Regions from separate parts of the Homo sapiens genome. Here region 1 is linked to region 2. Evidence: fine-mapped expression QTL. A gene starts in region 2. The other region holds a variant in brackets. All regions are shown on one strand. Distances are between the middles of the regions.

The links. PIP is the estimated chance that this variant, and not a neighbour inherited with it, causes the effect.
Region 1: its variant is the best candidate, but not a certain one, in a credible set for the expression of PPP1R1C in lung (GTEx, PIP 0.68).

What each region holds. Positions count from the first base shown.
Region 1 is chr2:182,306,341-182,311,340 of GRCh38, reverse strand. All of the region lies in intron 1 of PDE1A (phosphodiesterase 1A), which reads left to right. Among named protein-coding and RNA genes, the nearest start is that of PDE1A, 120 kb to the left of the region's middle. The variant A/G (reference allele first, on the strand shown) is at 2,238.
Region 2 is chr2:181,982,528-181,988,071 of GRCh38, reverse strand. It overlaps PPP1R1C (protein phosphatase 1 regulatory inhibitor subunit 1C), which reads right to left and starts at 2,219. Exons shown (of 5, transcript NM_001080545.3): 1 at 1,881-2,219; 2 at 173-233. The coding sequence starts at 1,961.

The sequences.
Region 1 (5,000 bases), 320 kb before region 2:
AAAAAATATATTTATGCACATGAAACAGTAAGCAGAACTGATTAATAGTAGAGAAAACTGGGACATGCTGAAGTGGTCAGGAAAGTTTTTCTGGAGTAGGTTCACTTGGTTAGAGAGTTTCTATCTAAATAGATGAAAAGCAGAAGAGTGAAGTTATAATATGAGTTAGGAAAAACTTACTGCTATTCAATAATCCAACATTTTGGTGGCTTAACAGAGGAATGTTATATTTCTTGCCCACATGGCAGTTCACTTCAATATTCAGGAGGCATTCTTCCCACGGATGAGGCAGGATCTCAAACCTAGAGAGTGTAGGTCTTGGCATCCTCCACTGTGTCTTCTGTATCTGGCCTGGAGACAGGGGAAGAAAGATATGGAAGCAGAGCGCTTATGTGGCAGATCGAGTGGGAGATTTTGGAGGACAGGCATAAAAGTTGAGTATATCATTTCTGCCTGCACTCTATTGGCCAGAACATGGTCACATGGCCTTGTTTATCTGCAAAAAGCACTGGGAGATATAGTTTGAGCTGGGTTCCTAGAAGAAGGAAATGAGTTTGATGAGCACATAACAATGTCTCTGCCACAGGTATGGCAACGTGAAAGTGAGATGTGCAGCCATGGAGCAGTGAGGAGTTCAGTTTGGCTTTAGGAAGCTGGTAAAATTTGTAAGAGAATGTGGCAGAAATTAAAGGAGGACATTAAATGCCAATTATATTGTCTTTGGGGGAATAAATTTGCGTTAAATACATCTCGTTTACTAGGATAATATTTGCCTACCACTCAAAGATATACTGAGGATGGAATAGTGTAATATAGTCAAACTATCTCTCAAGGTTTATAAAGCCCTAAATGAGTATATGACACATATTGTATTAATCTGAAAAAAAAGTTGCTACAATTGCAAAGCATTTCTTTCTTTTTCAATGATTTCCCTTCAACGTTCAAAGTTTTTCCATAACTTTTGACCTTTGCTATTTCCTCCATAGCCCCCTGAAGGAATAGTTATTTCCTTTGCCTATCTTGTTCTCCTCTAAAGAGAAGATATTAATAAGTTATTAACTATAAAGGAAAGGAAACCACAGGATTTCTTAGAACACTTCTTTGGATTCCTGCTATGTTATAGCTAAGCATATAATGGTACCATCTGTGCTAATAAAAATAACAATAATGTGTGCAATGTTGAAGTGAATGATAGACTCTTATTTCAAAGATGAAATTAAGCCCTGGTTTTGTCTCTTCTTTCTGCAGATTTCATTTTTGCCTCATCTATATTTTCTGCTTATCTTTAGTATGTTCCTTGTGTCTTGCCTCAATTACTCTGATAACTCTGTCTCTTCCCTTAGGGCTGTCTGCCAACTAGTCACTTCTAAAACCAATTTGATGTTTTTTATTGCATTGGCATTCTCTCCTCTCTCTTTTTAAATTACCTTCTTGGTGCCTTTGATTCCTATTTTAACTATTTTATTGAGTTCCAAGGCAACTTTTCCACCATACTTGAGCTATTCACATCAATCACATGCAGTTTTTTCACTTCTCCATGTCTTTGTGTCAGAAACATTCTTAAAATTATGGTTTTGATATTTTCCATCAGTTGTATTTCATGCATATTTTACCTGACTGCATATATCTGAAAAATAAGGTTTTCTTCATTGATTCATTCTTCTCGCCCTTCAAACAATTGCACATGTGATTTTGACTGAAATTACTGATTTAATATTCAAATTGAATAGACTTTCTCATCTTTGATATTTTTTGATTAGAGATCATGGGTACAGTTAATGCTTTATACTCTTAGAAGGTAACTGTGACTTCATCAGTAGGAAGCTGGCCTTCTAAGTTTCTTCTGACACTTTGGGTACTTATTTGTTTTGTTTTATTTTATTTTTATTTTCTAGGTGCCACATTTTATTGGCAGAAATGGAGATGCCTTAAGTTTTGGTTAGGTGTAAGTGCAATAAAGTATATTTTTGTGTATGTGATTACCCATGATTGTAGAATTATAAGGATGGTATGCTCAATGTTATTTTCTATTTTGTCACAATTTATTGTCTCAATATAAACACAACACACTGATTTTTCTTTACTTAAGTTTACAACTTTAGAAGGAAAAAACATGGTTCTGTAAAATAAAGGGATAGTTAATAAGTCTTGTCTCCTTTCAGAATTAATGCAATTGAGTCTCTTAAATAAACAAAAATCATATCCAACTTTTTACGTAAAAGGAAAACCTGAATTTC[A/G]TGAAGCTCTTCTTAGGTTAATTTGCAAACTCTGCTTTTTCCCTGTGTGAACTTCTTTGTCACTTTTTTTTTTTTTAAAGCAAGACTAATGCTATTTCATAACCTTACTAATAGATATTTACCTGGCATTTAGGATAAGTTGTAGAAATAAGGACATAGGTAAGATAAGGGCATAAATACGATTCCAATTTAAAAAGGAAAAATAAACATAGCAGAATTCTCAGCTTGTATGTGTGCTTTGACTAAGCTGAATTTTAATCAATGTTAGAGATTTATAGGTTGCACGCTGCACTTTATAAGGAAAGAAGCATATATATTTTGCCTTCAACTAAATATAAAAAAGTATTTGGATTGTTTCAAAGGCTTTCATACTTTATAACTCACATTGTATCTGTAAAAAAGATATAAAAACATACAATTGGATGAAAGTGAAAAATTTTTACATCATTGTTGTTTAAAGTTTAAAAAACTATGCTTGACCAAATATCACATTTTATTACAATTTACTAATTTCTAGATCATTTTATTTTATTTTATCCTATAAAATATTCTGCCTGGTTAAAAATGAAGGGGGAGAAAACATGATCCACATATGGATTTACTTAATTTATAGTTGCTTATTATACCAAGATTTGCTTTATAAATTTCTCAATGACTTTAAATTACATTTCGGACTTTAAAAGAGATTTACAGCAATGTATTTTATTTGGCACTTCAATATTTAATATATTTTTAGCAATTTAAAAGTGATGATTTGCACAAACCACATCCATCTTTATTGGAGTTAAATAAAAGCAATTTCTCTTATATTGCTTACATAATTGATTTCATTATAGAATTATCCTTGAAAGAACAACCTTTTTATGTTTCCTAGTTATTATATATGTTATGTGTGGTATTTCTCCCTGAGCACTCTAAGCTGGATGTGATTTTGTTCTGATTTAGGCTATAATTGTTAAACTTGTGCAGAATAATGTTGTCAACAAGGCCTGCCATATTAAAAAGAGTAATTTCTCCAGTGGACATTATTTTTCAAATTCAATTTTCATTTAACTGTCAGTGTCTTAATGCTAACTGTTAAAAAACGATTATATTTAGTTTTCTTGAGGAAGCTCTATATAGTTTTCCATAATGATTGTACTAATTTACAGTCCTACCAGCAGTGTACAAGGGTTCTCTTTTCTCCACACCCTCACCAACAACTTGTCATCTTTCATCTCTTTTGTAATTTTAGTTTTTGTTTTTGTCTTTAGACAGTCTGTATCTGTTGTTCATGCTAGAGTTCAGTGGCATAATCATAGCTCACTGTCTCAAGCCATCCCCCCACCTCAGTTTCCCAGGTAGCTAGGACTATAAGTGTAAGCCATGATTCCCAGCAAAGCATTTTTTTTTGGTAGAGATGGGATCTTGCTATGTTGCCCAAGCTGTTTCCATGTTTTTATAGTAGCCATTCTGACAGGCTTGTGACGATATCTCATTTTGGTTTTAACTTTCATTTTCCTAATGATCCAGTGATTGTCTTACTCTGTTTTGTGCTGCTATAACAGAATATCACAGACTGAGTAATTTATAATGAACAGAAATTCATTGACTCACAGCTTTGGAGGCTCAAAAGACAAAAATCAAGAGGCTGGGATCGGTCAAGGAACCTCTTGCTGCATCATCACATGGTGGAAGGGCAAGAGAGGGTGACAGTGAAAGCACATTCCACCTTTATAAGGAACCCACTCCCACAACAAAAACACAGTCCTGTGAGAACAGCATTAATCCATTCATGAAGGCAGAGCTCTCCTGGTTTAATCACCTTTTAAAGGTCCCACCCTCTAATGCTGTTATAATGATAATTAAATTTCAAAATGACTTTGGGAGGAGACAGACATTCAAACCATAGCAGTAATGTTGAGCATTTTTTCATATATCTGTTGGTAATTTGTATGTCTTCTTTTGAGAAATATCTATTCAGGCCCCTTGCCCATGTTTTAATCAGGTTATTTGTTTTCTTGCTATTGAGTTGTTTAATTTCCTTTTATATTATACATATTAACCACTTAACAGATAATATGCTTGTAAATATTTCTCCCAGTTGGTAGGTTCTCTCTTCACTCTGCTAATTGTAGCTTTGCTGTGCAGAAACTTTTTAGTTTGATGTAATCCCGTTTATCTACTTTTGCTTTTGTTGCATGAGCTTTTGGGGTCATATCTAAAAAATCAATACCCAGACCCATGTTGTATAGTGTCACCCCTGTGTTTTCAGTGTAGTTTCACAGTTTCGGGTCATACATTTAAGTCTTTAATCCATTTTGAGTTTATTCTATAAAGAGTGAGATAAGGATCCAATGTCATTCTTTTTCTTCATGTTTGTCAATACTTTTTATTGAAGAGACTTTCTTCTTCCCATTGTATTCTTGCACTTTCATCAAAAATCAATTGACTGTAAATGTTTGAGTTCATTTCTTGGTTCTTTCTTCTATTCCATTGGCAAATGTGTCTATTTTTATGCCAGTCCCATGCTGTTTTAATTACTATAGATTTATATTATAGTTTGGAATCAGGTAGTATGGTGTCTTCAGATTTGTTCTTTTTGCTCAATATTGCCTTGCTTTTGTGTGTGTGTGTGTGTGTGTGTGGTTCCATATGAATTTTTGGATTTTTTCCTATTTCTGTGAAAAATGACATGGGGATAACAAAAAACTATATGGAGATTACTCAAAAACTAAAAATAGAATTACAATAGAATCCAGCAATTCCACTTCTGTGTATGTA
Region 2 (5,544 bases):
CCTGTAATATTTATTTCTGATTCTGTTTACGATCCATTTTATAGATTAGCTTTCTAGAGTATTGCTAACTGTGAAATCCTAAATTGAAACTTTTCAGTACGACATGTACTTTGATGTTCTTTAAACAATTCCATTCTGTTCCATCAGTGTGAAACACATCATGCTTCTTTACCTGGGGGGTTATGCTCATTGAGAATCACAAGTGATGCTGGTGTAGGTCTTCTTTTCCTGATCTGTGAACGACAAAAGCCCAGCTAATATCAGTGAGTATTAGACACTGCTCCAGGTTACTCTGCAGCTTGCAAAGCTGTCTCACCCTCATCTTTTCCCCACATGCAAAAGCAAATTTCTGGAGGACACATGGAAGGTGCTCACTAATTTTATTTTGAAATAATAGAAAGCCACAGAATTGAACTGTCTGATAGAAGTATCACCCTCTTTGACCAAAAAGCTACATTTCCACGGAAAAGAAATAATTATATACAACTGAATGATACAACAGAAAATTAATTTACAATGAAGGTACAGGGTTGACCTGATAATGTTAGTGGCTTGCTTGGAGCCTCATAACATTGGTGGTGCTTTCAAGATTCATTACCCTTATTTTTAAACAGGATAAGGAAGAGCTTGGAAACCTATTTCTAGCAGGTACCAGAGTTAAATCAACAGCATAAGCTTTGAATTTCAATTAATTTTGTTAACTTTTTTATTTTCTAGTATAATATTTAGAACAAATAAACAAATGAAGAATAAATATGGATCTTATGAGAATATGCAACTTATTACAAACTCTAAAGTTTTTTTTTTTCATTTTAAGAGTTACAGGAGCATAGTATTGTCAGAATCCCTTGAATATAATATCCTTTATTTGTTTATTATATTCATTTATGGGTAAATACCCAAAGTAAGTGTCAGTAGGATAGATAATAAAATTTATCAATGACATCCTGTCCAAGATAGAAGCAACATCCCATTCAGCATGGATAGACACATGTTCAAGGATACATTTATCTGGCCTGAGTCTAGGTGCATCTACCTCAGATTTCAAAACATCCTGAAACACTATGAGTCACGGATTAAATAATTATTTTTAAGACTTTATATCAAATACTTGGAAAAGGATTCAAGAATAATTTAAGTTTTAAGAAATGAATGGATTAGGTTGATGTCCTCATAAATTTCTTTGCTTTTGCCTCCTCACAGTTGCAGTTCTAAGAGATGCCATTGCATCAAGAATCTAAGTAAATCTGAATATGAAAGGTGATACAGATGTAAACCAATATTAGACATGGACAAAGAATCTAGGAAATGTTAAAACACTGTTTGTAATGTCTGAACAAAACGATTTTAAAACTGTACAAAAAGCTACAAATCCTAGCTGTAATATATTATATAAACTTATAATCATTGTTTTGTGTCCACAATAATAAAACATATGAAAATAAAGTATTAGGCCTATAGTCTCAAACTATTGCAGGATTTAATGATTTTATTGCTAAATCAATCATTTTATTTTATAAAAAATGAAATAAAATGTTGCTCATTTTGATAATTTTTAAAAGTTGCTCTAAATGTTGAAACTGTTATTTTAATGAGCAAAAATGAACAGATTTATGAATCCATATCTGAATTGCTTACAGAGCCATTTTCCCCTCAGAGGTGCTAATTTTGTATCAAATGAAGTGTTACATTTTAGACAATAGTTCTCCCAATGCAATTTAAATACAAGTATGTGTAAAAACCAACTTATTTCTTGTTTACATTATCTTGAAAGTCAGAGTTAGCAAAATCAAAAGGTAAAGAACCTTTCAATTAATAACCAGAATGCATGTTCATATTACCTTATGTACAGGAATGGTTCTCCATGCAATTTCACATACCTGCTCTGCTGCTTCAGGTGCAATCTGACTCTGGAATACAGGCACGGCAAACTGTATCTTTTTGGGACTGTTGGGCTCCATGGTAATGATGATAATTAGTCAGAGATGTGAAGAGCTCAGAAAGACTAACCCTAAGTGGTGTCCGGGATGTGTTTCCTCAGACACACTCCACTAAGCCACACAGAGTGCTTCGTAATAAATAGCTGTAATTCCAGATCGAGCAAGTGAAGATGCCGAGGTTTGAGTAACCCCCTTCTTCAACATCCACGGTGATGCCTGGCTTGCCTGTTCCCCCACCAATCCCTTGGATCCTCTCAGCACAATACAGAAAGGAACAATACGCTAATTGTGTGCCTCTTCACTAATACACATGCCAAGCATTCACTCAGCAGCTAATTGAAAATGCAATGCTAGCCTTGAAGGACCCACTGCCCTGGGATTTGAAAGAAAGGCTCTATCCACTGTACATTACTAACCGGCTGCTCAAAAGTGCAATGTAAGCTCCCTCTGAGTATTGCAGGGATGGGCCATTCATTATTGATGAACATCAAGCAGGAAGTTTTTAGAGTTGGGGGCAGGGTTTAGGTATGGAATCATTTCTCTCAGCAACTTATAAGTCAGATACCTTTGCTATTTCACATTCAGCCACGAAACAGTTGAATGGCCATGGAGGGTAAGCCACAACCAATAATATCAGCTATGTTTATGCTATAAGATCTGGTTAGTTTAAACTCATCCTAGGAGGCAGAGCATCTGTGGTGTAGTGAGGGCAGCATTACTGCAGGGCTGAGCAGATCTTAGTTCGAGTTCCATCTTCATAATTAACAAGCTCTGTGGCCTCCAGAAAATTACTGGCTACGTCTAGGCCTCCACACTTCCATCAGAAAAATGAGGGGATTGGACTCAATGACCTTTAAAGTCCCATCCTGTTCCAACATTCTAAAATTGCAGTTCACAGTTTTCATTAGAGTGGAAAGTATTGTGCTGCTAAATTTAGCAAACAGCTTGGAAGTCACTGCTGCTTCAATGACCTCTATTTTATTTCCTGGTGGAGCCAGTTACATTCTCTGACTTGGAAGAATATGACTGGAAAACATTAGTAGAAACCTAATGGTAGTCAACATTATGGCTTGTTGTCAACAGTAGAAATGTATGTAAAGATAAGGACTTGAAAAAAGCATGAAGTGGGTAATGTTCAGAGGGTTGATATTGGCTAGTGGTCAGGGAACAGTGGGACACTAGCCTGATTGCCACATTAGTTAATGTTAAAGGGGAGGTAGTAACATAGCCAGATGGCCTTCATGCATTCGAATACTTTTATGAAGGAAGTGTGAAAATGAAACTGCTTGAGATCTCTGCTTTCTTGAGAGGCATTATGTGATGAATACTAGATTTGTAAATATGTTTTTGGATGTACTTAATATATTTAGACATCGACTATGATTCCAGGTATTTACAATTGAAGTTTTTATTTTTTAAATTTTGATTCTGTACTAGGAATCCATCTTAATGATTTAAATAGGCAACATTCTGTTGAAGGAATATAGAAAGGAATATGCATTATTGAAGTAGTTTTCTATATTCACTAGGGGAAAAAGCAAAGATGTGGATGTGAAAGCACTTTTAGTGGAGAACAGTGCTGACTAGCAAGAAATCTTGTGATGAGTTTATCCGTGTAGTGTCGAAGGGAAATTTATAAATTACATTTTATGTAACAGTTTACAAAAGTCTCCAGAAATAAAATCTAAATTGATATCATTAATGAAGTTATTTCTTTGAATATATCTTCAAATTATATAAAAGGAAAGCAAGACAAGACAGTATTTTTAGTGAGGAGTTAATACAAAACTTCACATAATGTAATAATTAAGAACATGCACTTGGCAACCTTGAGTTCAAGCTCTAGCTCTGCTACTTACCAAGTTTATCAGTTTGGGCAGTAGGAGAACTTTCTTCTTGTGAGGTTTAGATTACTCAATTCCTGAAAAGAGCTCATTACAAGGCCAGCACGGAATCACTCAATAAAAGATAGCTATTATTTTTCTTTCAGCCAGATTTTTCAAAAGGCTTCAACATACACATTTTCAACCAGAATCACTAAGAATATCTATCTACTTGGAATAATTTGATTCCACTTAGAATAATAGGTGATAAAGTGAAATTTCATATATGTGTTTGGTATAAATACCAATAAAATGGTTCTCATTAACTAATTGCCCTATTTTGAATAGGTTGATCAGAGACAATATTGTAAATGGGCTATCTAGACCCTTTAAGCTTCTTGTTTTTTATGAGGCCAACTCCTGTGTGTCCATTAAGATTCAGTTAAGTATCATTGCTTCTAGGAAGCCTTTGTAGATTTACTGTTCTCCACATTGGGTTTAAACTCACCTCTCTGTATTCTTAAAGAATGAAGCATAACTCTATTTATCATAATAACTACCTACATGTCTTTTGAATGTTTAGTATTTTGCAACTTTATTTATTCACATAGCAAATATTTGTTGAGTAGATACTATAGTCTACTCCACACCAGGCCTTTTGCTATGGCACTAGAGGAGAGATTGTGTTAAAAGGTATTTGAAGTCCTTTTAAAGCTAAATTCTTACTTGAAGAACTACTTAAAATGCAACTTAAATGTAAAATAATCTAAAAAATGTTAATATAGAGTTTGCATGGGGGGTATAATTTTCCTAAATATTAAGTGCACATTTTTTTATCCCTATTAGAGACAAGAGTAATAATTAACCCTTATATGATACCATGTGCCAGGAATTATTCTAAGTGCTTTATCTGCATTAATTTATTCCGACAACTGTTTGAGGTAGATATTATTGCTATCCTCAATTTAAAATTAGGTAATCGGGAGTCAGAGAGTTTAGATAATTTGTCCGGGGTCATCCAGCTAATATATGGCAAAGCCCAGTTTCAAACCCGGGCAATTTTGCATAGGGCTTGGGCTTTTAATCACAACAGCATCATGATGGCCACTATAATATAAGGCCAGTAGAGAAGTCAGTGGCAGTCAACAGAATCTCCGCAGTGGTTAGAGGTTCTGACCACATCAATTCCATGGTAAAAGATCTTAAGATGACGTGGTATATGAATGAAAGAGAAGCAAGTAGCATGACTAGGATACTATTAATCAAGATACTCAATCATTGCAAATTAGATATCAATATAGAAAGGAGAGCCTAAAGTTGGATGTTGTACCACCAAACTGACTGAAAAAGGAATCCTCTCCGTTGCTCTTTAAAAGTAATGGGTTCAATCATTAAAGATTAAAAAGGCCTCTAGAACAAGCAACAACTATAGTCTCTCTTCAAAGTAAGTGATACTGGAGTAAAGATGGAAAAACATTAGGAAAATAGGCCATTAGGCCTTCCTGATTTTACACTATAATATCTATCTTGCCCTACTTTGCATGATTCCTCAAGACCCTCCTACAGGCTGCCGCAGTTCACCTTACCACCAGTCTTTCTGTGGCCTCCCCTACCTCCCTGGAAGCCATCCTGCCTCCCCGCTCCCTTTTTTAACCCAAATTATATTCATTCTCTAATTCCACCTCCTTAGAAAGAGACCTTCAGATTCTCCACACAAGAAGAATCACTCAATTTGTTCCCTCTCCTGGTATTTAATTATATATAGTTTTATGTTATTCTAT